Homo sapiens: one gene and its partners. The protein of the gene in region 1 purifies or fractionates together with the protein of each later gene. This does not show direct contact. Each region holds a gene or a part of one and is shown on either strand. Other genes may lie near its edges. The genes, in order: ARMC8, DEK, MSI2, CHM, LONP1, NATD1 and ZCCHC2.

Evidence for each region.
Region 2: the proteins of ARMC8 (region 1) and DEK purify together in Homo sapiens (affinity purification with mass spectrometry, with the first as the bait; one large-scale study listed by BioGRID). This does not show direct contact.
Region 3: the proteins of ARMC8 (region 1) and MSI2 purify together in Homo sapiens (affinity purification with mass spectrometry, with the first as the bait; one large-scale study listed by BioGRID). This does not show direct contact.
Region 4: the proteins of ARMC8 (region 1) and CHM purify together in Homo sapiens (co-immunoprecipitation; one large-scale study listed by IntAct). This does not show direct contact.
Region 5: the proteins of ARMC8 (region 1) and LONP1 purify together in Homo sapiens (affinity purification with mass spectrometry; 2 studies listed by BioGRID and IntAct, with this or other methods). This does not show direct contact.
Region 6: the proteins of ARMC8 (region 1) and NATD1 purify together in Homo sapiens (affinity purification with mass spectrometry; one large-scale study listed by BioGRID and IntAct). This does not show direct contact.
Region 7: the proteins of ARMC8 (region 1) and ZCCHC2 purify together in Homo sapiens (affinity purification with mass spectrometry; 2 studies listed by BioGRID and IntAct, with this or other methods). This does not show direct contact.

Annotation. Positions count from the first base shown.
Region 1 is NC_000003.12:138,193,668-138,197,807, forward strand, and holds part of ARMC8 (armadillo repeat-containing protein 8), read left to right. Parts: intron 1-4,140. UniProt on the Homo sapiens protein: Component of the CTLH E3 ubiquitin-protein ligase complex that selectively accepts ubiquitin from UBE2H and mediates ubiquitination and subsequent proteasomal degradation of the transcription factor HBP1.
Region 2 is NC_000006.12:18,247,188-18,251,327, forward strand, and holds part of DEK (protein DEK), read right to left. Parts: intron 2,653-4,140; coding exon 2,464-2,652; intron 1-2,463. UniProt on the Homo sapiens protein: Involved in chromatin organization.
Region 3 is NC_000017.11:57,612,557-57,616,696, forward strand, and holds part of MSI2 (RNA-binding protein Musashi homolog 2), read left to right. Parts: intron 1-3,413; coding exon 3,414-3,528; intron 3,529-4,140.
Region 4 is NC_000023.11:86,037,439-86,041,578, forward strand, and holds part of CHM (rab proteins geranylgeranyltransferase component A 1), read right to left. Parts: intron 1-4,140. UniProt on the Homo sapiens protein: Substrate-binding subunit of the Rab geranylgeranyltransferase (GGTase) complex.
Region 5 is NC_000019.10:5,699,544-5,703,683, forward strand, and holds part of LONP1 (lon protease homolog, mitochondrial isoform 1 precursor), read right to left. Parts: intron 1,385-4,140; coding exon 1,246-1,384; intron 1-1,245. UniProt on the Homo sapiens protein: ATP-dependent serine protease that mediates the selective degradation of misfolded, unassembled or oxidatively damaged polypeptides as well as certain short-lived regulatory proteins in the mitochondrial matrix.
Region 6 is NC_000017.11:21,243,087-21,247,226, reverse strand, and holds part of NATD1 (protein NATD1), read left to right. Parts: intron 1-3,002; coding exon 3,003-3,121; intron 3,122-3,797; coding exon 3,798-3,914; 3' UTR 3,915-4,140.
Region 7 is NC_000018.10:62,560,866-62,565,005, reverse strand, and holds part of ZCCHC2 (zinc finger CCHC domain-containing protein 2), read right to left. Parts: intron 1,998-4,140; coding exon 1,862-1,997; intron 436-1,861; coding exon 371-435; intron 5-370; coding exon 1-4.

The DNA of each region.
Region 1 (4,140 bases):
TTTAAGATGAACCTTGATCTCATACCTTATACAAAAAGTAACTCAAAATGGATCATAGATTTTATCATAAAATAAAACTTTTAGAATAAAACAGGAGAAAATCTGCAGAACCTTAGGTTTGGTGAATAACTTTTAGACATAACACCAAATGCATTACTTATTAAAAAATTGATAAATTGGACTTTACCAAAATGAAAACTTACGCTCTGTGAAAGACCCTGTTAAAAGGATGGTTGCATTTAATTTTGGTCACTTTGTAATGGTAGAGAGGTAAGGTAACAAATTGTCTTTGAATCACTTTGTAGGCTATTATAAACAGCTGGGCACTTGTTGATTTTTAATTGTCTTCTTTACAGTCCTTTCCCAGTGGCATTACGTCTTTTTTTTTTTTTTGAGACGGCGTCTCGCTCTGTCTCCCAGGCTGGAGTGCAGTGGCGCGACCTCAGCTCACTGCAACCTCCGCCTCCTGGGTTCATGCCATTCTCCTGCCTCAGCCTCCCGAGTAGCTGGGACTACAGGCACCCACTGCCACGCCCGGCTAATTTTTTGTATTTTTTAGTAGAGACAGGGTTTCACTGTGTTAGCCAGTATGGTCTCGATCTCCTGACCTCGTGATCCGCCCGCCGCGGCCTCCCAAAATGCTGGGATTACAGGCGTAAGCCACTGCGCCCAGCTTTTTTTTTTTTTTTTTTGAGACGGAGTCTCTGTCGCCCAGGCTGGAGTGCAGTGGCGCGATCTCGGGTCACTGCAACCTCCGCCTCCCAGGTTCACACCATTCTCCTGCCTCAGCCTCCCGAGTAGCTGGGACTACAGGCACCTGCCACCACACCCAGCTAATTTTTTTGTATTTTTAGTAGAGAAGGGGTTTCACTGTGTTAGCCAGGATGGTCTCGATCTCCTGACCTCGTGATCTGCCCACCTTGGCCTCCCAAAGTGCTGGGATTACAGGCGTGAGCCACCGTGCCCAGCTGTCATTATTTTTTTTTTTTTGAAAAATAGCTGTTAGAACTGTATAGGGTATTCCAAATCTGGATATTCCTTCATTTTGTTCTGTTCTCTACAGTTATAAGCATATTGTTGGCCTTGCCTATAGCTACTTAATGATTTATTCTCTTACATCCATAACTGGCAATAATTAGGAAAAAAAATTGCTGTGAAGTCGAACCCACTATCCTGTAAACATAAATTTGGCCTCCCTAGGTTTTTAGTAATAAATGCAAAATAAAATCTGTACAGCACATTTTAAAGTTTGCCATTAGTTTACAAAGCACTAATAAGTACAGGGTATGTCAGTAGGTGGTCCTAAAATAAATTCATCAGTAAATCGCCAGGTGCAGTGGCTCACACCTGTAATCCTAGCATTTTGGGAGGCTTGGGCAGGTGGATCACCTGAGATCAGGAGTTCGAGATCAGCCTGACCAACATGGTGAAACCCCGTCTCTACTAAAAAATACAAAAAAATTAGCCAGGCATGGTTGCAGGCGCCTGTAGTCCCAGCTACTCGGGAGGCTGAGGCAGGAGAATGGCGTGAACCCGGGAAGTGGAGCTTGCAGTGAGCCGAGATTGCGCCACTGCAGTCCGCAGTCCGGCCTGGGCGACAGAGCGAGACTCCGTCTCAAAAAAAAAAAAAAAAAGAAACTATCTCAAAAAAATAAAAATAAATTCATCAATGAATCAATGTGAACTTTCTAATCTTTAATGGCAGTGTGTGAAAAATGAGAGGTGCTCATTGTATGTTTCTGGACATCTTGCTGTGTATTTAAGGAAAGACTAAGATAGTGCATGTTCAGGAAGTCTTTTAAACTCTGCAAAGAATCAGAAACACATTTATGTAGGGTCTTCAGATTTTACTTTTGAGACCTAGCCTTCTTATCACCTCCTATTTTCGCTAAATTTTAAAATACTTACTGTCAGCAGACAGGAATGTCAGTGATTCTGACTTGTATGTTTTTCAATTCTGATTTGGCATTTGTTTTGCAGTACCATCTGTCCTGTTGGCTTCTGGGTAAAGAGACGGTATTACATGAAAAAAAACAAAGCTCCTATTATCCTCTAGAAATTGGAGAGCAGCTGCCTTCACTGAACAGTAGTGCTATGATCCCTGGGACTGTTGAGATAGAAATTAAAGGTATTGCAAATAAGAGCAGTTTTACAGAAATAGCCCCCTGCCCCACCACTTGTCATTTTGTTGAAAAAAAAAAAAAAAACTGTTTTGACCACATTCCCTAATTTCAGAGGAATGAAGAGTTACATTTTCTAGCATATTCATAATGTAGGTATTAGAGGAAGGAGGAATGATGAAACAGTGTAAGGCTTTATATTAAAAATAAAAAGTTGTGGTCCAATGGGGAGTTTTCAACCTATAAGATCTATTAATATTGGGAGGTCTTTACCACCTGGAAAGTAATTATCGAACACATGCTTCTTTTGCCTTAGGGGTGTTTTTAAGAATTTCTTAGGCTTTCAGAAAGCTAATGGTGATTGATGGGATAAGGGAGACTAAGGAAAAGGAAAGAGTCATGATGATCATTATGATAAAGCATGATTCACAGGATTTATGCCTTTTTGGCCAGGTGGTATCATCTTCTGAGACGGTGAGAATTAGGAGAGGAATTTGTTAGGGGAGTAAGTAGGAAAATGAGTTTCATTTTGGACATGCCAAATTTGTAGTCAGTTGGAAAAAAAGGTTGAGTACCTAAATCTGGGGTCATGATCATTATTTTGGCATCATCAGTGTATTGATCTCTGGTTCTTAGCTGTTTAAGGATGAGAATCTCAATACCTGCTTTCCCAGGAGAACATGCATATGCCTAAATAGTTGCATAATTTCTAGAGATTGCTGGATTCCCTGAAACCCAGAAGTCACTCCAGAATTAACTTCTTCACCTGTCCCAGTGTGAGTCAAGAAAATGTAGCAAAAGCCAGGCACGGTGATTCACGCCTGTAATCCCAGCACTTTGGGAGACTGAGGCAGGTGGATCATCTGAGGTCAGGAGTCTGAGACCAGCCTAACATGGTGAAACCCCGTTTCTACTAAAAATAAAAAAAAATTAGCCAGGTGTGGTGGCGCACACCTGTAATCCCAGCTACTTGGGAGGCTGAGGCAGGAGAATTGCTTGAACCCGGGAGGCAGAGGTTGCAGTGAGCTGAGATCGCACCCTTGCACTCCAGCTTGGGCAACAAGAGTGAAACTCCGTCTCAAAAAAAATTTTTTTTTAAGTCATTTAAAATCATTTTGGAATGGTAAAGATTGTAGCAATAAGGTATTAAAACTCATGTGAGCTATTATGTGTGGGAATTGTTTCTGAAGAGCTACAATTTTTTACCCAGAGTATGCCAGTAATCTCCTAGAAGGTGTACTTTGTTCACAGAAAGGGCATTGTGTAGCAGGCCTGGGATGCAAAGCTAGGTTATCTGGAGATCCAAACAAACTACAAAGTAAGGTGATTGTGGGTCTGGACACAGGCAAAGTGGAATAGACAGATTCGAAGTGGCCTGCGATATTGCCGTGATTGTCACAGGCCACAATGTGGGTGACAGGTCAGGTCTGACAGATCTTGAGTGGTACTGTAATAGGAAAGTGAATGCACCAGCTGCTGCAAATGATGGGCTGAGTCTGAGGCAAGCACCATGGATAGCTCCAAGGCAGGGCTATTACTGCCTGTAAGAATCTGAAGCAAATAAAGCCCTTTTTTATCAGGAAGGCGCCTGGCCTGTCTGAACAATACTACTTCGAAGGTGTGCCATGAAAGATGGTACCCAGGATCTCTAAGTAATTACATGACAGCAATTTTGAATAATAATTTCAACTATTCTTATGGGCCAGGACAACACCTCACCCATATCTGAATAGCCTCACTTTGTTATGTGAGGATTGAGAAGTTGGCATTTAAATACATCCTAGTGGACTTCTTGGGTCATCTTATCACCTTGGGAGGCATATAAATGAACCTCAACCAATCCAGAGGATATCTCAGTCTTTGTGAAACTCCTGATCATTTTTGTAACCTTGCATGTGCTTTCCAGAGATAGTTCTTGCTCCCTTGGACTTTCAGATTATGCTGTCTCACACAGTGGGTTCTTATCTCATTTGCTCTATCCAGAGGTATCTTTTATTGACCCTCCGTTTAAGCATTCTCA
Region 2 (4,140 bases), on another chromosome or scaffold:
TCACAGAAACTGAATCAGCAATAAAAAGCTGAAGACAGTGCTAAATTTAAAGCAACAATGCTTGTTGGAGAGACATTTATCAGGGAAAAAAAAGGGGGGGAAACAATTTCTCAGTCCAAATTTTATTTTACATTTTATAAAATCTGTCAAGTACTAGCAAAGGTAGCAAAAAAATCCCTCTAATAAAATATGATATAGCTTTTATATTGTGTGATTTCATACACCTAATGTCTGAAAGCATTTTTACATTTTCTTCTCCCATGGATTTTCATCAATTGACCTGGGTTTCTAGTCACAGACCCTAGATTAGGGCACTACAGAAGGTAAAGGTTTGATTTATAGTGAGATGGTTCCACTTGTGATTATTATCCTGGAACCAATATGGGTATAAATCAGGTATCATCTGCATACACCAAGTTCAACTACCTCTACAGAACTATGGGACAACAATTTAGAAAGCGAATTTTAAAAGTGAGTATAAAATGCTCTCGTTTTTTTTTTTTGAGACGGAGTTTCGCTCGTTGCTCAGGCTGGAGAACAATGGTGCGATCTCAGCTCACTGCAACCTCTGCCTCCCCGGTTCAAGCAATTCTCCTGCCTCAGCCTTCCCGAGTAGCTGGGATTATCGGCATGCACCACCACGCCCAGCTAATTTTGTATTTTTAGTAGAGGCAGGGTTTCACCATGTTGGTGAGGCTGGTCTCGAACTCCTGACCTCAGGTGATCCACCCACCTCGGCCTCCCAAAGTGCTGGGATTACAGGCATGGGTCACCATGCCCGGCCTGCCCTCACTTTTTAACCTGCACCTAGTAATGACAAGAAGATTCGATTTAGAAGTTTTACTTGTCATAAAACATCATTTTAATTCTAATAATAATAGCAACTAATACTTACATACTATATGCACCAGGCACCGCTCTAAGTATTTTAAATAAAATCCTTTAATATGACCCTATGAGGCTAATACTATTATCACTCCCCATTTTACAGATGGGAAACTGAGGTATAGTTTAAATAACTTGCTTATACTAATACAGTAATAATCCAATATAGAGGTCAGATTTGAACTCAGTTTCCAGAGCCCATGCTAACGTCTCTATGAAAAAATTAGACATTTATATTCTATGATAATGTTTCGTGCTTTAACTCTGCCCATAAAGAGAGTTTAGGAATCTGAATGGCACACAGTAGACACCAAATATTTCCTGAATGAAGATACTATCAGTTTAAAAATTTCCACTGTTATATATATACATACAAACAAACATGTTTTCCTCCCGGATATCCAATCCATAAAGACCTTAATGCTCAGATTACTTATTTTCCTTTGTGCCAAATATATATTAAGATATTTATGAAGCACCTACTAGATTCGTAACCCTCTTTCTTAAATGATGAAGCATTTCATACTTAGCTTTATAGAAGTCTTTATAAAATTTGACGCTAAAACAAGCATGAATTGTAAATAACTCAAGACAAACATACATACTAAACACCCACACATATCATATAATACCAGAGTTCACTATATCTTTATTCCTTCTAATTCAGTGGAGATGATTCCCTCCTTGTCTCGCCCCAGGGACATTTGACAATGTCTGAAGAACATTTTTGGTTGTCACAAGGGGAGCTTGGGAATATCACCCACAATTAAGAATCATCTGGTCCAAAATGTCAAGTTGACATTATCCAAGTCCCTAAATAAGGCAAGGTTGATTACCCAATCTATAGAGCAAGTTCCAACCTTTGAACGAAAACATCAAAGTTAAAATACAGTCTACCAAAACATCATTAACAATAATAGAAACCCATCTCCTGTACCCACTCTCCATGATCTACCTGACTGAAGAGGTTAACCCTCTTATTTAACTGCTTCAGCAGTTCTCTTCTTCATGAAGTTTCACTTTGGAAACTAAGAGTCTCAACTTTTACAAATACTCCCAAATAAAAGAAAATGACAGGTAATACAAAATTTATCCACTCATTATATAAACTTCAAATGCTGTTTATTCTCACTACATAGTCCCCTAAAGGTTGAGGGGGGGAAAAAGGCCCTTAAGTCCCTTGCTTTTTCCGTAAAATAAAATGATCCAAGTCAATTATAAAGTATCAATATATTACGAAAAAAATCCTCGAAGAATCTGCTCCTATGTGGTCCTATTCAGGATATGCACCACTTCCGCTTCCCTTCCCATTTATCTACTCTAGTCTTCAACGTCCAGCTCAAGGCCCACTTCAAATCCAGTCCACACCAACCTCACTCTTTTCTGACTCATACTCTGACATGGTAATGAAACTAAAAGCTCTTTAAGGAAAAGAAATGGGTTCATACTTAATCATTTCTGCATCTTCAGAATTAAAAACAACCAATAAGGAAGTGTTTTCTGGCTGTACCTTATAGCAGAAATATTTAACTCTCCCCATGGAAAGAAATGATTTAAAAATATAGTAAAATATTTTACCTCCTCTTCACTTTCTTTATCTTCATCATCTGAAGACTCTTCCTTGTTTTTCTTTTCATCTTCATCACTACTAGATTCATCTGACAGAATTTCAGGACATTTGGTTCGCTTAGCCTTCCTTGCCATTCCAGAACTGTTCCGTTCCTTTTTACTGCCTTTGCTACAAGTTTTTTTAGATTTCGGCAATGGCTGCATAAAAATTTATAAAGATAACACCAATGAGGTATAATATTTCAATCAATTCTCTTCTTGAAAACTTATCAACTCAATTTCTTATTCCTCTCTCAAGAAATTGTATTTACAAGCCCAGCAGCTTTGCAGAGAATAATCTTTAACCGTGTCAGGTTAACCTAAAACTGTGTTACTAATACCATTTGTGTTCTAAACACCTAGCAAGACCCTTCTCAATTGTAGAGAAATATGTATTCTAGGTTCTGACATGGGACTAGAAGCTCAAGACACATTATGTTAAGCTCCAACGGCTGTTAATACTTTGTCATGATAATATTTTAAGTTAGATTTGTAATTTATTTCATCCCTACAAGCATTAAAACTGTCACTGCCAACCCAGCACTTTGGGACGCCGAGGCGGGCAGATCATGAGGTCAGGAGATCGAGACCATCCTGGCTAACACGGTGAAACCCCGTCTCTACTAAAAATACAAAAAATTAGCCGGGCGTGGTGGCGGGCGCCTGTAGCCCCAGCTACTCGGGAGGCTGAGGCAGGAGAAAGGCGTGAACCCAGGAGGCAGAGTTTGCAGTGAGCCGAGATCGCGCCACTGCAGTCCAGCCTGGGCAACAGTGTGAGACTCCGTCTCAAAAAAACACAAAAAGCAAAAAACAAAAAACTGTCACTGCCAAAGAAGCTCCTTGCTTTAGAAGGCCCAACACTCCAATCGAAGGAATGGGAGAAAAACCTTTTTTTTTTTTTTTTTTTTTTTTTTTTGAGACAGAGTCTCATTCTGTTGTGCAGTAGCTGGGATTACAAGTATGCACCATCACGCCCAGCTAATTTTTGTATTTTTAGTAGAGACAGTGTTTCACCATGTTGGCCAGGCTGGTCTCAAACTCCTGACCTCAAGTGATCCACCCACCCTGGCCTCCCAAAGTCCTGGGATACAGGCATGAGCCACCACGCCTGGCCCATAAAAAAAATGTATAACTTTATTACCAATTATACATCCTGAATTTATGAATGAACTATACGGTTTATATTCATTACTTCTGGCCTCTACTTTCAACAATGTCAGGCTCATATTATCACTGATGCCTATAAGTATACAATAAATGATAAGTATGTTAATTATGAAACTAAGAATATGCTGCTATTATTCTGATAATCAATTAAACCATGTATATTAAAAGCAGAGATCACCTGATGAAAATGAGTTGATTACAGTAAACAATAAATTTAATTTTTAAGTGCTTTCTCAAGGAAGTTTTGCTAAATTCTAAAATTGAAAACCATAAAATTACCTAACATCAAGAATGTTAAAATGCGCATTACAGAATTAATATTTATTTCTGGGATTGAGCATCTTTTATATTCTTTTATTTCTACCTTTGTTACTTTATTTTCTGCAATAAGCAGAAACATTAAGGTAAAATTCCATAACATAACCTTAAGGTATCCAATTGTGTAAATGTTTGTGATAACTTTAGGCAATATTTTTCTTG
Region 3 (4,140 bases), on another chromosome or scaffold:
GGGGAACACTCACCGTTGACCCAGCAGGTGGTTGGCACTCAGACAGTCATTGCTGCCCAAACCACCAGCAGCAAAGACAGAGCAGAATTAAACAGAGCTGTCAGCCCTGTTCAGTGAGAGGAAGAGTAGGTGGGTTTGTTTAAAACACTCCCATTACAGTCAGTTAACCTTTATGTTCCCTAAATGAAAATTGTATAAACCTGAGATTTCCGTTGATCGGGTTGCCTAGGAACAGGCAGCAGGTTTTCATAAGACAATGCAGTAGATTGTCACCGATAGGGCTATTAGGAAGTGAGCTGGTTAGCGGTATTATTCCCCTTGCTGGTGTTGGCTTTGGGTAATTATCTGTCTGCCTGTGCGAGACACGCCCATCTTCCTAGGCTTGGGGCAGGTTCATGCAAATGAGATTTCTCAGCCTGCTCCTCTGGAGTCCTGAAGCCAGTTTTCACCCCTGGGCTTAGGAGAGAAACCTAAAAGAGCCAATTTGGATGAGTTTGTTGTTTTCAATCACCTTTCCCCCCTACCTGCAATGACAATATTCTAATAGCCCTATCAGTGACAGTCTATTGCATTATCTTACAAAAACCTGCTCCCTGTTGCTTAGCAGAAAGCTTAGAAAATAACTAGCAAAATGCCCAATTAAAATTTAAAAACAGAGTGATTCTAAGACAACTTTAGTATGTCTTTTCAGTATTTTTCCCTATATGATATATGCACTTGTTTATTTTTCAAAAAGTCAGTGACATTTGCTGTTTTCCCGCTTGCAGTTAAAGAAACCCATCATCCTGGTTTGCCTGGGACTGAGGGGTTTCCCAGTACCAGTGCATGATTATTATCAACACACTTTTTCATAGCTGCATAGCATTCAATCAGTGTGGATAATCCAAACTCAGCTAATTCCCTGTTCTTCTATATTTTAGGTATTTCCTTTTATTAAAAAAAAAAATTCTAATTCCGGTAGGGCAAATTCCTAGAGGTAAGATTACTAGGTGTATGTATAAATTTATGGCTTTTGATGTAGTGTCTGGTTGCCCTCCAGAAAAATACGTGCCAATTTCCACCCCTCCACACTATACCGTCAGAAACCCTTACATCAAACAATGCTTTCATCACTGTCAATCTGTGGGCAAAAAATATGCTTCATCTTGGGGAATGTGTTCTTTATTAGCCGTCTGTGAATTGTCTACTCCTGTCTTTTACCCATGTCTGTTTTGGGATGCTCATCTCTTTTAATCTATAGAACTCTGTATTAAGCATATTAGTCATGAATGTTGAACCATTTTGTCCACTTTTTAAGGCATTTGTGGTTATTCTTGAAAGAGCAAGAGTAATACCTGTTGTCCGGTGTCTTTGAAGAAAGGTGACTTATATCTTAGGTAATTATAGCATCCCCCTAACCTTGAGCACTAAAATATTTTTTGATTGAAGTATTTGGGATGTGAGTATCTCCAAAATGGATAACCCATAGAGGTTCCTTTTTTATTTTCGTTTTATTTATTTTTTTTATTTTTTGAGATAGAGTCTCGCTCTGTCGCCCAGGCTGGAGTACAGTGGTGCGATCTCGGCTCACTACACCCTCCACCTCCCGGGTTCAAGCGATTCTTCTGCCTTAGCCTCCCAAGTAGCTGGGATTACAGGAGCATGCCACCACACCTGGCTAATTTTTTTGTATTTTTAGTAGAGACAGGGTTTTGCCACGATAGCCAGGCTGGTCTCGAACTCCTGGACTCAAGCAGTCTGCCTGCCTTAGCCTCCCAAAGTGTTGGGATTACAGGTGTGAGCCACCACGTCCGGCCTAGAGGTCTCTGTTTAAACAATGTATATTGCACACAGTTTAACTTTTTCTTGCTATCTCAGGCACACCTGTGAACAATAGCAATTTTCTGTGTTACAGTGATACCTCAGCAGCTGTTGAACTATGTAGAGCTTTTGTTCCTATACCATATGGCCCAGACTGCTCTTTAAATAAGATACCTGTTTCTTGTCTTTTCTCCGTCATTTAAATAAGATACCTGTTTCTTGTCTTTTCTCCGTCACTATCAGGCGGCCATGCTGTTTCTTTTGGCTGTTAAAAGCATCCGTGCCTTACCCTGCAACATCCCATCTTCATCAGCAGTGGGATTGATGACTGGCTAACAATGCTTGTTAAATTTCTCTGTAAACAAAAAGCAAATAAGTGCTAATAAGCACAGGCCTAAGGCGCTCTGGTAAAACAGTGAAGGAGCTTCCGAGGGCCACAGTTTTACTTATTCCCTGAGGTTTATAGTTCGCATAGTTAAGGTTATTAAATAAGTGACCTCTGGGTATACAAGCAGATTAGCATGAAGAAATTTGAGAGTCAGAAGGGAAACAGAAAGGGGAGATTAGCAACCACTTGAAAATGTAGCTGCAAATGAGAAACTAGTAATCCAGATGAACAGAATCAGTGTTTAATCTTATTACTTCCCTCAGGAGTGTGGTGGTGGTGTAGGTTTTGTGGAAATGTGGCATTGCTGACCTAGAAATTCTAAAGATCTGGTTTGTAGGCCTGAACCTGTTGGGGAGGGCTTTCAGCATGTTGCACAAGAATTTTTTTTTTTTTTTTTTTTTAAGACAGGGTCTCGCTGTGTCACCCAGGCTGGAGTGCAGTGGCGTGATCATGGCTCACTGCAGCCTTGACCTCCCAGACTCAGGTGATCCCCCTACCTCAGCCTCCCAGGTAGCTGGGACTACAGGTGTGTGCCACCACACCTGCCTAGTTTTTTGTATTTTTTTAGTACAGACGGGGTTTCACCATGTTGCCAGGCTGATCTGAAACGCCTGGGCTCAAGCTGATTCACCTGCCTCCACCTCCCACAGTGCTGGGATTACAAACATGATCCCCCACGCCCAGCCAACACAAAACTTCTGATGCTCTGTTTTCTCATCTGTGAACTGGAGCTAAGGCTAAGTGGTCTGTCTGTTTAATAAGAGTTTGAATCAGATGGCCTGGCATGAAGAGTCACTGGCCTGAGAGAATGTCAGGGGCATTTGTAAATGTGTAAAGGGCTGAAAAATCCTGAGGGATTATTATTATTGCTATTGTTGTTATTATTCACAGACACATCCAACAGCCATTGTCTGCCTCCTTATCTGTCATGCTTTCTGCACGAGCGTCAGCCTGAGCTTCAATCTGTGTGTATATCTGCAGCTTACGTCCTTGCCACCCCTCCAGAACCCAGTTTCATCCTTGTAGGTTTTTCCGAAGCAGGATTTGCACAAGTGGCGTGTTTTCTTAAGTATTTATTTTGCAGGCCATTTACTCGGCATGGCTATTTTTACAGTGGGTAAGGAGCAAGGCTAAAAATAACTTAGCTCATAACCAGACAGGTTCTGCATTTGACATTTACGTGGAATTCATTTGCATCTCATTTGTTCGCCTTTCTGTTTAACAGGTAGAATGTAAGAAAGCTCAGCCGAAAGAAGTCATGTTCCCACCTGGGACAAGAGGCCGGGCCCGGGGACTGCCTTACACCATGGACGCGTTCATGCTTGGCATGGGGATGCTGGGTGAGTCTGGACAGGACCGCAGGTCACCATGGACTGGGAGGGCTATGGAGGCCTCTACTCCCAACTGGGTCACCTACCAGTGGGGCAAACTGCTTCACCTTTCTAAGCCTCAGTTTCCTTGTCTGTAGATGAGGATGATAATTCCCCGTTCCAAGACAGTTGTGATGATTAAGTGTGGGTGTGTGTGTGTGCATGCATGTGTGTGTGTGTGTGTGTGTGTTTGTATTTATAATATTGCCCCATGCCTGGCTTATAGGATATGTTAGACTATTTTCTCTCTTTTCCATCTCCTTCCTCAAAAGAAGGAAAAGTCCCCCTCTATCTGCCTCAGCCCTCTCATCTGAGTGGGAGTTCTTAAGATGTAAGGACTCCTGGCTGACTTGACTTGTGTGGGCTAAGGCTACGTTTTCTAAAACTTGGGAGAGGAGGGAAGTGGTAAGGGTGGGCGATAATCCTGTCTATTTAAATGATTAACATTTTTCTCTTGGGATATCAAAATTTGCATTTAAATGGATGTTTTAAATAGCCTGTTTTACTCTTTATTTGCCAAAAAAAAAAAAAAGATGAAAGACAAAGTGTGTTTGTTCTGACTAAAAATGATTTCTCCTGGCT
Region 4 (4,140 bases), on another chromosome or scaffold:
ACACAAATATTTCTATTGTAATTTAAGTGACCAAAATGATCTTTTCACAGCAAAGTATACCCCAGGCCAGTGCTCTTCAAACTTAACATAAAATTTAATTTGTGATAAGGAGAATAGTTTCTGTGTTCAGAACATATTTTACTAATGTGCCACATGACCTTTACTGCATTACTCATAAAACTGTGAGTCTAAAATAGATGATGAAAGAGAATAAGTATTCATTTCAAAAATGTTATAAAAATGATACAAAAAACCCTTCCCCTTTATATAAAATCCTATCATGAAAATCATTTTACAAAAAATAGAAATAAAAACTTTTCAGCTTTATAAACTATTTTTTTTAATGAGCGGGACCTTGGACCAAAAAAGGTATTATCATATCCATCCTATCAATTAAGATGCATGATGTATCCATTGTAAGCACTAACAGTTGTTGAAGACTGTAGGAAACAAAAGAATAGTCAACCAAAAGAAAAAAAGCTCCATAAACAGGACAATGAGTCCCATATTTGATCTTGAAAATTTAATTTGGAAGAACACTAAAAAAGACACAAAATGGCAAACCCCAGCACATGCACAAGTATTTCAGTGGGAAATTATGTACCTTGGGATTGTGAAAGGAAAACAAATCTCCCCAAAATCACTAAACCAAAAGGAAAAGTCAAGTTGGGAATTGTGTTGGGCAAACCTCTCTCCCTTTCTATTCCTAAATAAGATCACTACAAAGATTTTTAAAAAGCTACATACCTCCCTCACAATTTGCCCATAAGGAAATTCCTTGTGGACAACCAAAGGACAGGCAGAACTCAAAGTCATTCCTCTGTTCCCATGAGACAAATGCGTATCTGATGGCTTCCTCCGCCCTACTGTTTCACTACAGACTAAGGCATAAGTGACTATTCCTCATTTGTCTCTTAACTAACTATGACCCAGAAGCCTCCTCCCCACTTCGAGTTGTCTGGCCTTTCCTGATGGAACCAATGAATTATACATCTTACAAACGTTGATTAATGTTTCATGTCTCCCTAAAACATGTAAAATCAAGCTGTGCCCCTACCGCCTGGGGCACGTCATCAGGACCTGAGGCTGTGCCACAGGTGCATCCTTAACCTTGGTAAAATAAACTTTCTAAATTAATTTGGTAATCTAAATTATTTTGGTTTACAGGATCAATGAAGAATTCCTACTGAAGCAAATCATTTCTTAAAATGTAACTGTAATCTCTGATCCCATTTCTGGCCATTGCTTTAGTGGTTGATTCTCTCTTCAGTTTTAAGGGATAAACACAACCAGGTCATTCCGTTCACCTTCATCAAAAGAAGGTTTGCAAGCTGACACAGATGTCATGATGCTGTCAATAATAAGAAGCTGACATCATGAGGTTACTGCTGGAATCAGGATTTTAATGTCAACAATGATAACTCTCCAAAATAAAACAACTGCCAACCACAAACCCAGGTTAAAATAATCTCATCTTGATACTATGAGCTATTTTTTCAATTGAAAGATTCTAGCAAACTTAATCTAATACCTCAACCTTAGTCAGAAAAACTTTCGTCTTAACTGTTTCACCTACATCAAACTTAGCTGAGCCTCAGGCTTCACATTTGAAAAATGGAGATGATATAGTATCTACTGCAGGGTTACTGTGAAAATGAGACAATGCATTGTAGGGGCTTATCACCGTGCTTGGCATATAACAAATGTTAGACAATATTTTTCATGTGTTTGACAGTGTGTTGTAGGTACTAAAAACAATTTTCTAATTATCATTGATTTTGCTTACATAGCTTAAACCAAAGTAACACAGGTGTAGAAAATAAGGATTTGAACTCACAGCTCAGCATCTTCTTAATATGCCTCATATCCATGTGTAAAACTTTTTCTCTATACTTTAGCTTGTGTAAATTTTCTCATGATGATTTTAAATCCACATAAATAAGACTAGTTTAACAAATGTGCAAAGTCAGATCACAGAAACATGATTCAAAACATTTCAAAGCAATATAAAATGATTAAAACCACCATTAACTAGTAGCCATAATAACTCAATGAGAACACTGGCCTAGACCAAAAAAAAAAAAAAAAAAAAGACAGGTGAGAATACTCAAAAGAAAGAGTAGAAGTTAGTGAGTGACAGGGACAGGAGGCAGGGAAATTCTAGGCAGAAAAGGGCAGGTCCCTGAGAAAACCCCACCCTCAAGCCTGAAACCATGACGCAAAGTGAGAACTTATATCCCCATTTTCCCGTGCGAATGTTGCCTTTTCCGAAACCACTTACGGCCCACCCCACACCCCATCCTGTGTACATAAAAACCCCAGGCTCAGCCAGCAGAGAGAAGAGAAGCAGTTGGACATTAGAGACTACAGCTGGACATCAGAGAGAAGTGGCTCGACTTCAGAGGGACACCTTGACAGCGTAACTTCGAAGAAGAATCTGGCCAGAGACAGCTGGCATTCAGGGGAAGACTACCTTCCTGCCCTTTGCAGCTCCCCTTCCCACTAAGAGCCATCTCCATCAGCAATAAGATCCCCTACATTTACCATCCTTCAATTCATTCATGTGACCTCATTTCTCCTGGATGCCGGACAAGAGCTCGGGAACGATGAGTGTGGACACAAAAAGGCTGTCACACTTGCCCTTTGCCCTCACTGGTAGAAGGCAGCCGATTAACACAAAAAGGCAGAGGGCCCACTGAGCTGTTAACCCTTAAGCCGTCTGCGGACAGCAGAGCTAAAAGAGCACTGTAACATTCCCTCTGGAGCTTCAGGGGTTGCAGGCACCACCCCCGGAGATGCTACCACAGGGCCAGCACAGAGTTGACTCCTGCCAGTGCCCAAAAGCACTCGCCCCGGCTCCTGCACCCACTCAACTGCACATCCCCTCTTGTGAGGGGTGAAACACAGCAGGTCCGAGTGAGTGGAGTTCATTCCTCCTGGCACAAGAGCGGCAGGCTGACTCCAGCACTCATGTATTCCAGTTCCTGCCTTGTTCACTCACGTGCTCCCTCCTATGAGGAGTTGAAAGCGGTGGGCTGAGTAAACAGGGTGCTCCCTTCACAAGTCCCATGAAGGGGTCAGGAAAATATCCTGCTTCACCAGTACTTTTTAAAATGTGATAAAAACCAAATCAGTCAAGGAATACATTACCAACTTCAGCTCCTGATAAAATCCAGTATGAGATGAAACACTTATTTAAGCACCATACTGGCCAAGCTGCCTCTGGTCTCTTCTCCTGTCTGTTTGCAAACTGTTCTTTTCAAAAACACCCTCAATATGATAACATGCTAGCTCTCATAATCATGCTCTAAAAAAGCAGTATCTGTGATAAATTATCAACTCTTTTTACACCAAACCTTAAATGAAATTATTAGAAAAGCAAAAACAAAACATCAACCTTTCAATGTATCCCTATTTTGCTGGCCACAACTAAACGCCCCCAAAATGTTTCCAATGAGCACCAACAGTGATTTTTAGCCTATTTTACTTTTAAATATATTTATATACAGAACAGGCACAGACTAACTTTTTAGTTAAAGAATGCACTGAGACTGAATAGCAGATGATTTAGCATGAGTTAACAGGTCAATTATATGGAATTATAATTGTTTCTGTGCATTGGGATTTTATGTTAAACATGAGAATGTAATGGTGGGCTGCCATATTTGAATTTAATTACTGTAGCCTGTTATCCAAAACATCATGAAAACACTGGAGAAAATGAGAAAAATGACATGAGGCATGGGAGATGAAAATGATGCTGCAGAGGAAATTATGGCAACAGATGTGGCTCTCTCTGAGGTATTGGCTCAAATTCATGATTTACAGAGAAGGGTAAGCATCTCCCAGAGAGTCTTCTCCAGAGTTAGATAACTCTTTACTTTTCTAGGTATTGGAAGCAAACAAAAACATACTTTTCCATCAATAAATGCCTGAAGAAGTGCAAAGCATTTTTCAGAACAGCAAAATCTGCAGGCTATCTTTCACTCCTATAGCATCTCTTACGCTGACAACGGAGTGTTTCATACTATACCTCAAATAAGACCGATACTAAATCTGTTCCAAAAACTATGAGGAAAACAAATGATAAATAATGCAAGCTGGTGAACAAAAGAGAAGACAACAAAGAAAGGACTTTTG
Region 5 (4,140 bases), on another chromosome or scaffold:
CTCTGGCTCCTGTTTTTTTTTTTTTTTTTTTTGAGATGGAGTCTTGCTCTGTGGCCCAGGCTAGAGTGTACTGGTGCGATCTCATCTCACTGCAACCTCAGCCTCCTGGGTTCAAGCAATTCTCCTGCCTCAGCCTCCTGAGTAGCTGGGATTACAGGTGTGAGTCACCATGCCTGGCTACTTTTTTTGTATTTTTAGTAGAGGCGAGGTTTCACCATGTTGGTCAGGCTGGTCTCGAACTCCTGACCTTGTGATCCACCCGCCTCGGCCTCCCCAAGTGCTGGGATTACAGGTGTGAGCCACCATGCCCAGGCTCTGACTCCTGTTTTTTAACCTTTGACTCCCACCTGCCTGCCTGGTTTCCAATGTCTCAGGAGTGATATTTTAAAAATTAATTTAAAATTAATTAATTTTCAGACAAGGTCTCGCTCTGTCACCCAGGCTGGAGTGTAGTGGTGCATCACAGCTCACTGCAGCCTCCACCTCCCGGGCTCAAGCAGTCCTCCCACCTCAGCCTCCCAAGTAGCTGGGACTGCAGACACGCAACATCACACCAGGCTAATTAAAAAAAATTTTTTTTCCTTTTTGAGACGGAGTTTCACTCTTGTTGCCCAGGCTGGAGTGCAATGGCACGATCTGGGCTCACTGCAACCTCTGGCTCCTGGGTTCAAGCGATTCTCCTGCCTCAGCCTCCCAAGTAGCTGGGATTACAGGCATGCGCCACCACGCCTAACTAATTTTGTATTTTTAGTATAGATGGGGTTTCTCCATGTTGGTCAGGCTGGTCTTCAACTCCCGACCTCAGGTGATCTGCATGCCTCAGCCTCCCAAAGTGCTGGGATTACAGGCATGAGCCACAGCGCCCAGCCGCAATTTTAAAATTTTTTGTAGAGATGGGGGTCTCACTCTGTCACCCAACCTGATGTGCAGTGGCATGATCACAGCTCACCACAGCCTCAACTTCCTGGGCTCAAGTGATCCTCCCGCCTCAGCCTCCTGAGTAACTGGGACTACAAGCAGCCCCACCATGCCCGGCCCGTCAGGCATGACTTCAGTCCACCTGGGAAATCCTCGAGCCCTCGGGGGCAGGGCAGGATGCTACCTCCGCCGGGATCCCCCCGACCAGCACCCCCAGGCCTACGAATTCACCAGGGGGCTCCTTTGAAATCTCAACCCACAGCACACAAGAGTCCTGGGCCCGGGCACCCACATGCAAATCCACAACAGGCCAGACACTGGGCTCACCAGGATGCGTTTCTTGACGTCCTCCATGCCGTAGTGGTCTTCCTCCAGCACTGCCTGTGCCCGCGCCAGGTCCAGGTTCTCGTTGCTGTACTTGCCCCAAGGGATGGACGTGAGCCAGTCTAGGTAGTTGCGGGTGACACTGCCAGGGGACAGATGGAGAGATGCTGAGTGGAGCTCACGAGCTGCCTGTCTCTCTGCTGGACTTGGCTGGGTGGTTGCAAGGGGCTTGAAACCCATGTGTGGGGCTGAGCGCGGTGGCTCACGCCTGTAATCCCAGCTCTTTGGGAGGCCCAGGTGGGAGGATCACTTGAGCCCAGGAGTTCAAGACCAGCCTGAGCAACTCAGCAAGACCCCATCTCTATAAAACAATTTACAGGCCAGGCACAGTGGCTCACGCCTGTAATCCCAGAATTTTGGGAGGCCGAGGCAGGCGGATCACAAGGTCAGGAGATCGAGACCATCCTGGCTAGCACGGTGAAACCCTGTCTCTACTAAAAATACAAAAAATGCTTCTGCCTCTGCCTCTGCCCTCTGCCTCTCCCCTTTCCACGGTCTCCCCTTTCCCTCTTTCCATGGTCTCCCTCTGATGCCGAGCCGAGGCTGGACTGTGTGCTGCCATCTTGGCTCACTGCAACCTCCCTGCCTGGTTCTCCTGCCTGAGCCTGCCGAGTGCCTGCGATTGCAGGCGCGCGCCGCCACGCCTGACTGGTTTTCCTATTTTTTTGGTGGAGACGGGGTTTCACTGTGTTGGCCGGGCTGGTCTCCAGGTCCTAACCGCGAGTGGTCCGCCGGCCTCGGCCTCCCGAGGTGCCGGGATTGCAGACGGAGTCTCGTTCACTCAGTGCTCAATGGTGCCCAGGCTGGAGTGCAGTGGCGTGATCTCGGCTCGCTACAACCTCCACCTCCCAGCCGCCTGCCTTAGCCTCCCAAAGTGCCGAGATTGCAGCCTCTGCCCGGCCGCCACCCTGTCTGGGAAGTGAGGAGCGTCTCTGCCTGGCCGCCCATCGTCTGGGATGTGAGGAGCCCCTCTGCCTGGCTGCCCAGTCTGGAAGGTGAGGAGCGTCTCTGCCCGGCCGCCCATCATCTGAGATGTGGGGAGCGCCTCTGCCCCGCCGCCCTGTCTGGGATATGAGGAGCGCCTCTGCCCGGCCGCGACCCCGTCTGGGAGGGGAAGAGCGTCTCTGCCCGGCAGCCCTGAGAAGTGAGGAGACCCTCTGCCTGGCAACCGACCCGTCTGAGAAGTGAGGAGCGTCTCCGCCCAGCAGCCACCCCGTCCGGGAGGGAGGTGGGGGGGTCAGCCCCCCACCCGGCCAGCCGCCCCGTCCGGGAGGTGAGGGGCGCCTCTGCCCGGCCGCCCCTACTGGGAAGTGAGGAGCCCCTCTGCCCGGCCAGCCGCCCCCTCCGGGAGGGAGGAGTGGGGGTCAGCCCCCCGCCCGGCTAGCCGCCCCGTCTGGGAGGGAGGTTGGGGGGGGGGTCAGCCCCCCACCAGGCCAGCTGCCCCATCCGGGAGGGAGGTGGAGGCGTCAGCCCCCCGCCCAGCCAGCCGCCCCGTCCGGGAGGGAGGTGGGGGGGTCAGCCCCCCGCCCGGCCAGCCGCCCCGTCCGGGAGGTGAGGGGCGCCTCTGCCCGGCCGCCCCTACTGGGAAGTGAGGAGCCCCTCTGCCTGGCCAGCCGCCCCCTCTGGGAGGGAGGAGTGGGGGTCAGCCCCCCGCCCGGCCAGCCGCCCCATCTGGGAGGTGTACCCAACAGCTCATTGAGAACGGGCCATGATGACAATGGCAGTTTTGTGGAATAGAAAAGGGGGAAAGGATTGAGAAATCGGATGGTTGCCGTGTCTGTGTAGAAAGAAGTAGACATGAGAGACTTTTCATTTTGTTCTGTACTAAGAAAAATTCTTCTGCCTTGGGATCCTGTTGATCGGTGACCTTACCCCCAACCCTGTGCTCTCTGAAACATGTGCTGTGTCCACTCAGGGTTAAATGGATTAAGGGCGGTGCAAGATGTGCTTTGTTAAACAGATGCTTGAAGGCAGCATGCTGGTTAAGAGTCATCACCACTCCCTAATCTCAAGTACCCAGGGACACAAACACTGCGGAAGGCCGCAGGGTCCTCTGCCTAGGAAAACCAGAGACCCTTGTTCACTTGTTTATCTGCTGACCCTCCCTCCACTATTGTCCTATGACCCTGCCAAATCCCCCTCTGCGAGAAACACCCAAGAATGATCAATAAAAAAAAAAAAAAAAATTAGCTGGGCGTGGCAGCGGACACCTGTAGTTCCAGCTACTCGGGAGGCTGAGGCAGGAGAATGGCATGAACCCGAGAGGCGGAGCTTGCAGTGAGCCGAGATCGTGCCACTGCACTCCAGCCTGGGCAACAGAGTGAGACTCCATCTCAAAAAAAAAAAAAAAAAAAAATTTACAAACTGCCCTGTCCAAAGCACCCAGTGCAGGAAGGAGGAGATGGCCGGAGGTCCACTGCTGACTCATCAGGAGAGCCAAGACGGCACTGGCTTCTGCCCAGGGCTGAGTGAGCAGAACCACAGAGGGGACGAGGCTTAGAAAATGGGACAAGGCCTGACCCAGGGCAGGTGGGGAAATGGAGGCCAGGTCCCCTGCCGGGAGAGTGACGCTGAAGGTTGGGAGGGCAACTCCATATTGGTCCCCAAGTTGGGAGCCGTGCAGCAGTGAGCAGCGGCCACTATGGGCCAGGAGCAAGTCAGTGAGGGCTGCAAGAGCACACGGCAGGATTGGGGAAGAGGATGAAGAGGAGGACGGCTTCCGAGGAAGGGCCAGGCGGCCCCACGAGCAGACACCGTCAGGGCGCACTGCCACCCAACGGGCATACGAGACGCACCGGGACAGGCCAGCTGGGCCACACGGATGCTGGAGTTTAGAGA
Region 6 (4,140 bases), on another chromosome or scaffold:
AGCTGGGTGCCTGGAATATGGTAGTGGCTGAGCTGTGCGATCACTGAGGGTCAATGGGAGGCAGAGAAGTTCTGAGGACTCCCAGGGTCAGGTCCATCCATGGCCCAGGTGGCTACTCCAGAAACACTGACGCAGGGTGTGCACAGAGGAGTAGTAATGAGCTTGCCAGGCTTCTTGTATCCACCTCCCTGCTCTGCAGAGACTGCTGGAGCAAAAGCTGAGGTTTTTTTGGTGGCTTGCAGGGCCCTGTGTGGTCTGGCCCCAGGATCTCTGACTTGGTTTCCCAACCCTCACTCCCGGCTTGTTTGGGCCCAGCCACTCTGGCCTCCTTGCTCTTCCTTCAACCTCCTACCCCAGGGCCTTTGCACGTGCTGTTCTCACCAGTGGGCGGCTCATACCCCACATGTCCTTTGGGGTCCTTGTATGCCCTCTTTACAGTGGCAGCCCTGCCCCTCCCCACCCCTCCTCTGCTGTATAGTGATCCTTGGCACCTGTCAGCTTATCACCTGTGTGGCCTCTGTGATGTATGTATTTATTTAGAGACAGGGTCTCACTCTGTCACCCAGGCTGGAATGCAGTGATAACAATCATATCTCACTACAGCCCCAAACTCCTGGGCTCAAGTGATTCTCCCGCCTCAGCCTCCCAAATAGCCGGGACCATAGGTGTGTACCACCATGCTCAGCTTTTTTTTTTTTTTTCTTTTTTTTTTGAGATGGAGTTTTGCCCTTGTTGCCCAGCCTGGAGTGCAATGATGCGGTCTCAGCTCACTGCAACCTCTGCCTCCCGGGTTCAAGTGATTCTCCTGCCTCAGCCTCCCAAGTAGCTGGGATTACAAGCACCCGCTACCATTTCTGGCTAATTTTTGTATCTTTAGTAGAGATGGGGTTTCACCATGTTGGCCAGGCTGGTCTCGAACTCCTGAACTCAGGTGATCCACCCACCTCGGCCTCCCAAAGTGCTGGGATTATAGGAGTGGGTCACCGTGCCTGGCCCCTGTATTATTTATAATGATATTACTTATTGTGTGTCTTCATCAGTACGTAAGATCTCCATGAGGAAGAGTTTCATCAGTTTTGTTCGCTGCTGCCTGCCCTGCAGCCCAAACCCTACTGGGACACAGTAGGCCCTCAATGAGCCTGGGGTAATTAAATGGCCAGGCTAGGTAGGCAGCTCCCTTGGTGACGGAGTCAGTCCCAGAATAGCCTCCGATCTCTGCTCTCCTGTCCTGGGTGAGTTGAATTAACCCCAGCAGGTGGGGAGCCAAGAACCACATCCCTTGCTGTGCAGCCAGGACAGGCGGCAGTGGCCACAGCTGGGCCTTGGCCAGGGTGGCAGGCATAGTCCACAGAAGGACAGTCAGGCCCACAAGGAGGAGGCAGCAGGGCTGGTGTGGGGGCGGGGCTGCAGGCATGAGGGGAGTGGGGCTGGGGAACCCTCAGCTGGGCCTGGCAGGAACGGAGAAAGGGCATCAGGCAGAGGGAAGTGCCTAGGCGATGGCGGGTGCAGGAAGTAGCAGGTGTGTCGGTGGAGCAGAAAGAATGGCTGTGGCTCAGGACCTGCAGGCCTGGGCTCCAGCGTCATCTTGGCCTGCTGTGTGACTTGGATCCCTGCATCTCAGTAGTTCCTCATCTGGAAATGGGGAGATGAATTGTAGCCACTCTCCTGAGGCTTTGGGGAGAATCAAAGGAGATACCAAGAGCCAGAAGGCCTCCTTGCTGCCGTTGGCCCCAGTTCCGGTGGCCCTGGACTAGTGGTTGGACCTCTTGGCCTGTCAGCCTTCCCCTCGTGTTGCCCAGCACAGGCTTTAAGGGCAGATTTTCTGGGGCTTTGAAGTTAAAACTCATGAAACACAGCATGATTTTAAAGAGTGAATCACATCTGTCCCTTTGCTGAGGGCCTTCTAGTGGCGCCCAGCTCAGAAGGCTTAGGAGGCTCTGCAGGACCTGCCCTATCACCTCCCTGCCCCCATCTCTGCCCTTCCCCTCACCCACCCCACTCCAGCGGCCCCTCATTCAGGCCTACTCCTGCCTCAGAGCCTTTGCACTGGCTGTTCCCTCTGCCCAGAACACTGTTCCCTCAGAATGGCTGGTGCCCTCTCCTTCCTGTCTTCACCTGCCCCCATTCCCTGGCATCCTACACATCACTTGCTTTTCATGTTTATTCTCTTTCTCCCCTTCCGGTTTCATGGGGGTAGGACTCCATGTCTAGCTTGTTTGTTGCTATACTCCCAGCATCTGAAACAGTACCTGGGGCTCAGGAAACATTTGGTGGATGGATAAGTGGATGGGTGGGTTGATGGATGGGTAGGTGGAGAGACAAATAGATGAGACACTAAAAACTGTGATTAGGAAAAAGTTCAGTTAATTGTTTGCCCAGCAGCAGTTTGGGGTGGACTGGTGAGCTCCAGGCTTGGCAGGCCTGGTGGAGTGTGAAAACCCGTTTGTTCCTGCCTCCTGTGCCCAGCGTCAGTTTCTCATGAACTCTACCACAGGCCTCTGATCTTTCCTGCTGCGTCTCTCTCAGGGTCCAGCAGGTGGTCCTGATGCGTGGCGCAGCGCTGCCTCTCTAATCTCTTCATGCTCTGCCTTAGTTGCAGATTTGCTGAGCCCTGTTCTGTGTCCAGTGCTGGGTTCTGGGACTCCCAGATCCAGGGATGTGGTGGGGTGGGGATGCAGGGAGCAGGGCTACAGAAAGGGGTGGCAGGGCCCTGGGATGCTAGGACTGACGCAGTAGCAAAGGTTCATGTGGGGCTCAAGTGTTCTAGGCATGGCTGTAAGCACGTCACAGAGGTTACCTCATTTAATCCTCCAAACCACCCTATGAAGGACATTTTATTGTACCTCCACTTTATGGATGAGGAGACTGAGGCACTGAGAGGTTATTCAGGATTCAGCTGTAGCAGCTGAATGACTCCAAATGCCTGTCCCTCCACCCGTCTTGGTGCCTGAGTCCGCTGGGATGGGAGTCAGCATAGGCTTACCTGTCTCCACAACCCCCAGGATGTCATGACCGGGCCGTCCTGCTCTATGAGTACGTGGGCAAGCGGATCGTGGACCTGCAGCACACCGAGGTCCCAGATGCCTACCGTGGGCGTGGCATCGCCAAGCACCTTGCCAAGGTAGGGCAGGCAGGTGGCAGGGCCAAGCGGGGACGGGGACATGGGGGCTGCCACCTTCGCTCCGAGGAGACGGTGGCCCTGGTGGCCACTTCAGCCTGCTTCTTGGCCCTGGGTCCTCTCTGGGCCAGTGGCCGCCTTTCTGGGCCCAGGCTCCTGTTCTGCAAGACCCTGGCGTGGCTGAGCCTCCAAGATCCTCACACACCTCCTGTGTGGCAGGTGCTTCACAGGAGCCCCATTCCTGCCCCCAACCCCTTCATCCTCAGGGCATCCCAAACCCCAGGCTGCCTGGAGAGCAGGTTTGGGCTTAATGAAGGGAGTTACAGCCAGAGCAAAGAATGACCGTCACTCCCCTGAGGGCTGCTGCTGGGACTTAGCTGGGCCGTCTGCCGGCTTCCCCTCCTCCACCCCCACCCCGCCAGGAGAATTGCAGGGCAACCTTTGTCCTCCATGCTGCCTGGGGCAAGGGGGCTTGTAGGGGAGAGGTGATGTGTTTTTTCCTTGTGTACCGGACCAGTCTGTGGGGATCATCCCAGGTGACACTGAAACTCAAGGGAGTTACTGACCTGGGCAAAGTGGAAGGGTGGCCAGGGAGCCGGGCCTGGGGAGGCAGCAGACAATGCTACCTTCTGGTGCCGGCTGCAGGCCCTGACCACTCTCCTCTCTGCCCGGCTCCCAGGCCGCCCTGGACTTCGTGGTGGAGGAGGACCTGAAGGCCCATCTCACCTGCTGGTACATCCAGAAGTACGTCAAGGAGAACCCCCTGCCGCAGTACCTGGAGCGCCTGCAGCCGTAACCCTGGCCTGCAGGCGGGAGCGCTCCCTGCCGGACTCTTCCACGTGGCCTTTGCCTGGCCCCACGTGCTCTCAGGAACCTGGTCCCACTGGGAACAGACTCAGAGTTATTTTTGTAAGGACACTCATCTGTGCCCCACGTCCAGATCCCTGGAGGCAGCTGACCAATGATGGGCGGTGACCCGGTAACCGAGGCGGCAAGGAGGCCAGGTAGTCCCGGCACCTCTC
Region 7 (4,140 bases), on another chromosome or scaffold:
CTCCCTAAACCAAATGAACATATTGCCAACATTTTAATAAGGTTATCTACCAAACACATTCAGTACAGTATTGATAAAATTTCCTTCAAGACTCTTCAAATTTTTTTAGTAAGGAATAATCTAAATACAATTAAGATTCGCCCTTCCGTGGAAAGTTCTGAGAGTTTTACCCCTCCAAACTGAATGCAATATTTGACAGTAGCTTTATTTTTATCACCTGCATATATTAATATTTTGAACCAAAAGAGTAAAACCCAGAATTAAAAATATAAAGAAAACTAACTAAAAAAATACTATGTTGTATACTATCATAAACTAAACAGGCCTATTATCAAAGGCTATATGCTGTCTTTCCTTAAATTGAACCTACTTTTCTGTTTGTGGCTTTCCTTTCTTCTTATTTATTGAAGATAAACTCCGTTTTTCAGCAGAATGCTAGTAGAAAGAATAAAAAGACAAATCAGACAAAAGCTAAACCATTTTGACGTTTTTACTCTCATAATAAACATTAAAATGATAGATTCCCAGTTGTATATTCTAACAAGTGTTGATTTCCAACCTATTTTTGAAGTTTCCCACCTGAACCACTAAAATTTACATATTCTGTGACACTTACATATTTTCCTCATGATTAATACAGTATTATTTTCTATTTTTCTTTGAAAATGGACCTACATTCTTTTTTCTGACTATAAAATGAAACACAATCAAGTGACTGGCACTTGCTGTAGGTTTACTACTATTCTCTTCAAGTACAATTCCATATAACTGTCAACACTTAACTACGTCAACTCTAAGAAGAGAGGGTGCAGGCACTGGAGTAGGGGAGGGAAAGTAAACTCAGACGGGCTTTGAAAATAGGTCACTAATTATGACTAAAACTATTTATAATTTCTCAGAATATGCTTTAATGCATAAAAACACATTCCAAGAAGAGTTAACATTTGGATCTGAGCGTTGGCCAGGGACAACATCGGGTTAATGAATCAATTTTCTAGAGAGAAGTTTCATTCCATACTTGTAACATATACACAGGGACCTCCCCCCATATCTGCGAGGCCATACGACATGAAACATACTTAACAGCATTCTGCTCTCTGATCACACCCAAATCTTAAGAAAGCAAACATCCCCTAATGCATTCTGAAGTGTCAATAAACTGACCCAAATATTCATGAAGAAAGGTCAGTTGGAAAATTTCTATCACAAATAGCAAGGCAGTGATTGAAATCTGAATTCTAATTCTTTCAAGACCAAAAAATTTTGGCATAACAATCTGATGTACACCTTTGTTAAACAGTGAAGGTATTATTTTTAAAATTTTTATTTTGTTTTAAATTTATTTTTTAGAGACAGGGTTTCACTCTGTTGCCCAGGCAGAAGTACAGTGGTGTGATCATGGCTCACAGCAGCCTTGAACTCCTGGGCTCAGGTGATCCTCCTGCCTCAGCCTCCCGAGTAGCTGAGACTACAGGTGTGTACCACCACACTCAGCTAATTTTTAAATTTTTTATACAGACAGGGTTTCAGTATGTTGCCGAGGCTGGTCAAATGGGTGGCCTCAAGCAATCCTCCTGCCTTAGCTTCCCAAAGTGCTGGGATTAGAAGCGTGACCCATGGCGCCTGGGAAGGTGTCATATTAAAGTGTACTAATCTTACACAAGCAATAAAAGTAATCTAAATACACATTTTCAGGTCTCAGAAGAGCTTAGATCATATATAAGTATAAAGTCTAAAACTTAAACATTCCTTCATTTCTTACCAGATATACTGTCTGACTGAAAGCTTACAGAACTTAATTTTTTTCTTATAGAGGAGCAATGCTTTAACTATATAGCTCCAAAACAAACTCCCCACACACCTGGTCAGCCGAGGTCACACAGTGCTCTGGGTGTTGAATGGTGGTACAGCTTTGCTTCCTCCAATCCACAATTCCATTCTGTTCAGAATATTGCATGGTAAGCCCATCCAATGGAGAACAACTTGTACCAATATTGCTACCAAAGAAAAGTTTATGAAAGTGTGAAAATCTGCCCTCAATAATAACCTATTTCATTTCAACAAAGAAGTTACAGTAACCCTTTCTTCAATATATTAGTTTCTTCAAGGAATGCCTAATGATAGGTCTAAGAAAAAAAAGTATACTATGAGAAATAAACCACTACACATCTATTTATCATTAATACTTGTCTCTAAAAAGAGTAGTAACAGCTGCACACTCTGCTTTTAGACACTATGCGATGGTGATCATCATACACTGCTTACAGCTGGGACAGAGAGGCTTATACAACCTGCATCTTGAGAGCACTGCTGTCATGAGCACTTAAGTAACTGGGCACATGAAGGAACAGGATAATGAGATCAAAAACCAAAAGAAACAGACAAGAGAAATAGGCCCCAGCAGAATTCAGATGATAAACTTATTGGACACAGACTTTCAGGTAACAGTGCTTAACATGGTTGACAAATACAATACTGAGGATTTTGGAAGAGAAATTTGGAAAAGAAAAAAAAAGTAAATTATAGAACTTATAAAATAAACTAATATTACAAACTCAACAAATGGGAAATAGATGGAGAAAATTAGTGAAGGGGAAACAGATGAAGAAAATCAATGAAGAAAAAATTGGTCGGAAGAAAACAGATTAAAGCACTGAGACTGAAAAAAATGTGAAAAACAAAAAAGGCTTAAAAGACATGGGACGGCTGGGCACGGTGGCTCACACCTATAATCCCAGCACTTTGGGAGGCTGAGGTGGGTGGATCACCTGAGGTCAGCAGTTCGAGACCATCCTGGCCAACATAGTGAAACTCCGTCTCTACTAAAAATACAAAAAAAAAATTAGCCAGGCATGGTGGCGGGTGCCTGTAGTTCCAGCTACTTGGGAGGCTGAGGCAGGAGAATCGCTTGAACCCAGGAGGCAGAGGTTGCAGCGAGCTGAGACTGCGCCACTGCACTCCAGCCTGGGTGACAGAGCGAGACTCCATCTCAAAAAACAAAAACAAAAACAAAAAAAACCACGGGACATGGTGAAAAATCTAACATACAAGGATTTGGAGTCTTGGAAGACGGAGCAAGAGAAAAGCGGAGAAGAAATATTTGAAGAAGTAAAAAGCTAGTTTTCTAAAATCAGAAGACATCAAGCTACAGATTCAAGAATTCATGCAAAGGAAGCTAGGAAAACTGCTGAAAACCAGACAACAACAAAACCTTAAAAGTAATCAGAGGGAAATGCGTATTATCTTCAAAAGAGCAGCAGTAAGACCGATTGAAACTCTGGATGCCAGATGACTTAAGTGTGAGTTCCTCTCAAAATCAGAGTCCAGCATAACAGAGTTTATTTGGGAAGTGATCCCAAAAAGCAGGAGCAAGGGAGTGGAGAGGATGAAATGGCGAAGGACTGCAATGAAGAGTCCACAGTGGAGGCTGGAAGCATCAGGAGCTCCGAGCTTCTGGGCCCTCCCAGAATGACAGACCCAAAAAGGATGGAGGCAGACTCCTGTGTGAGCAGCAAAGGCCCTAAGGCGGAACATGGAAAGTCACGGCTCATACTTGAGGAGCACAGCGCTAATGTGGTATGAGTAAGAAATCACAGACGGTTTTATGGGATCTGCAGGAGAAACTGGAGGTGAGTGGAGAGAATAAGATGCAAGGAAATAAAGGGAGAACCAGATGATAAGGAAACTATGCTCTCAAAAGCTCACGGAAAGTAACTGCCCAATTAGAAGTCCACATGTGGCAAGAGTATCTTGTAAAAATGAAGGCAAAATAAACATTTTTTCCAGATAAAAATTTGAGTGCATTCATCACTGGCCGATGTGACTATAGGAAATACTCAAGTGTTCTTCAGTTGGAAGGAAAATGATCATAGGTGGATGCTCAGAGACACAGGAAGGAATGAGTACACAAACACTACAAAGAGGTTTCATGGAATTTAAAATTATACAGAGAATTAAAATGCATGACAGCCACGGCTTACAAGTTAGGGGGAAATAAATGATGTTGCAGTAATCTAAGGTCCTCAAATTGTTTGGGACCAGTACAAGCACAAATATCCAACTTTAATAAGTCAAAGATATGTAATATTATCTCTAGGGTAGCCACTAGAAGAACTTTCATTGTAAAACTATCAAAGATGA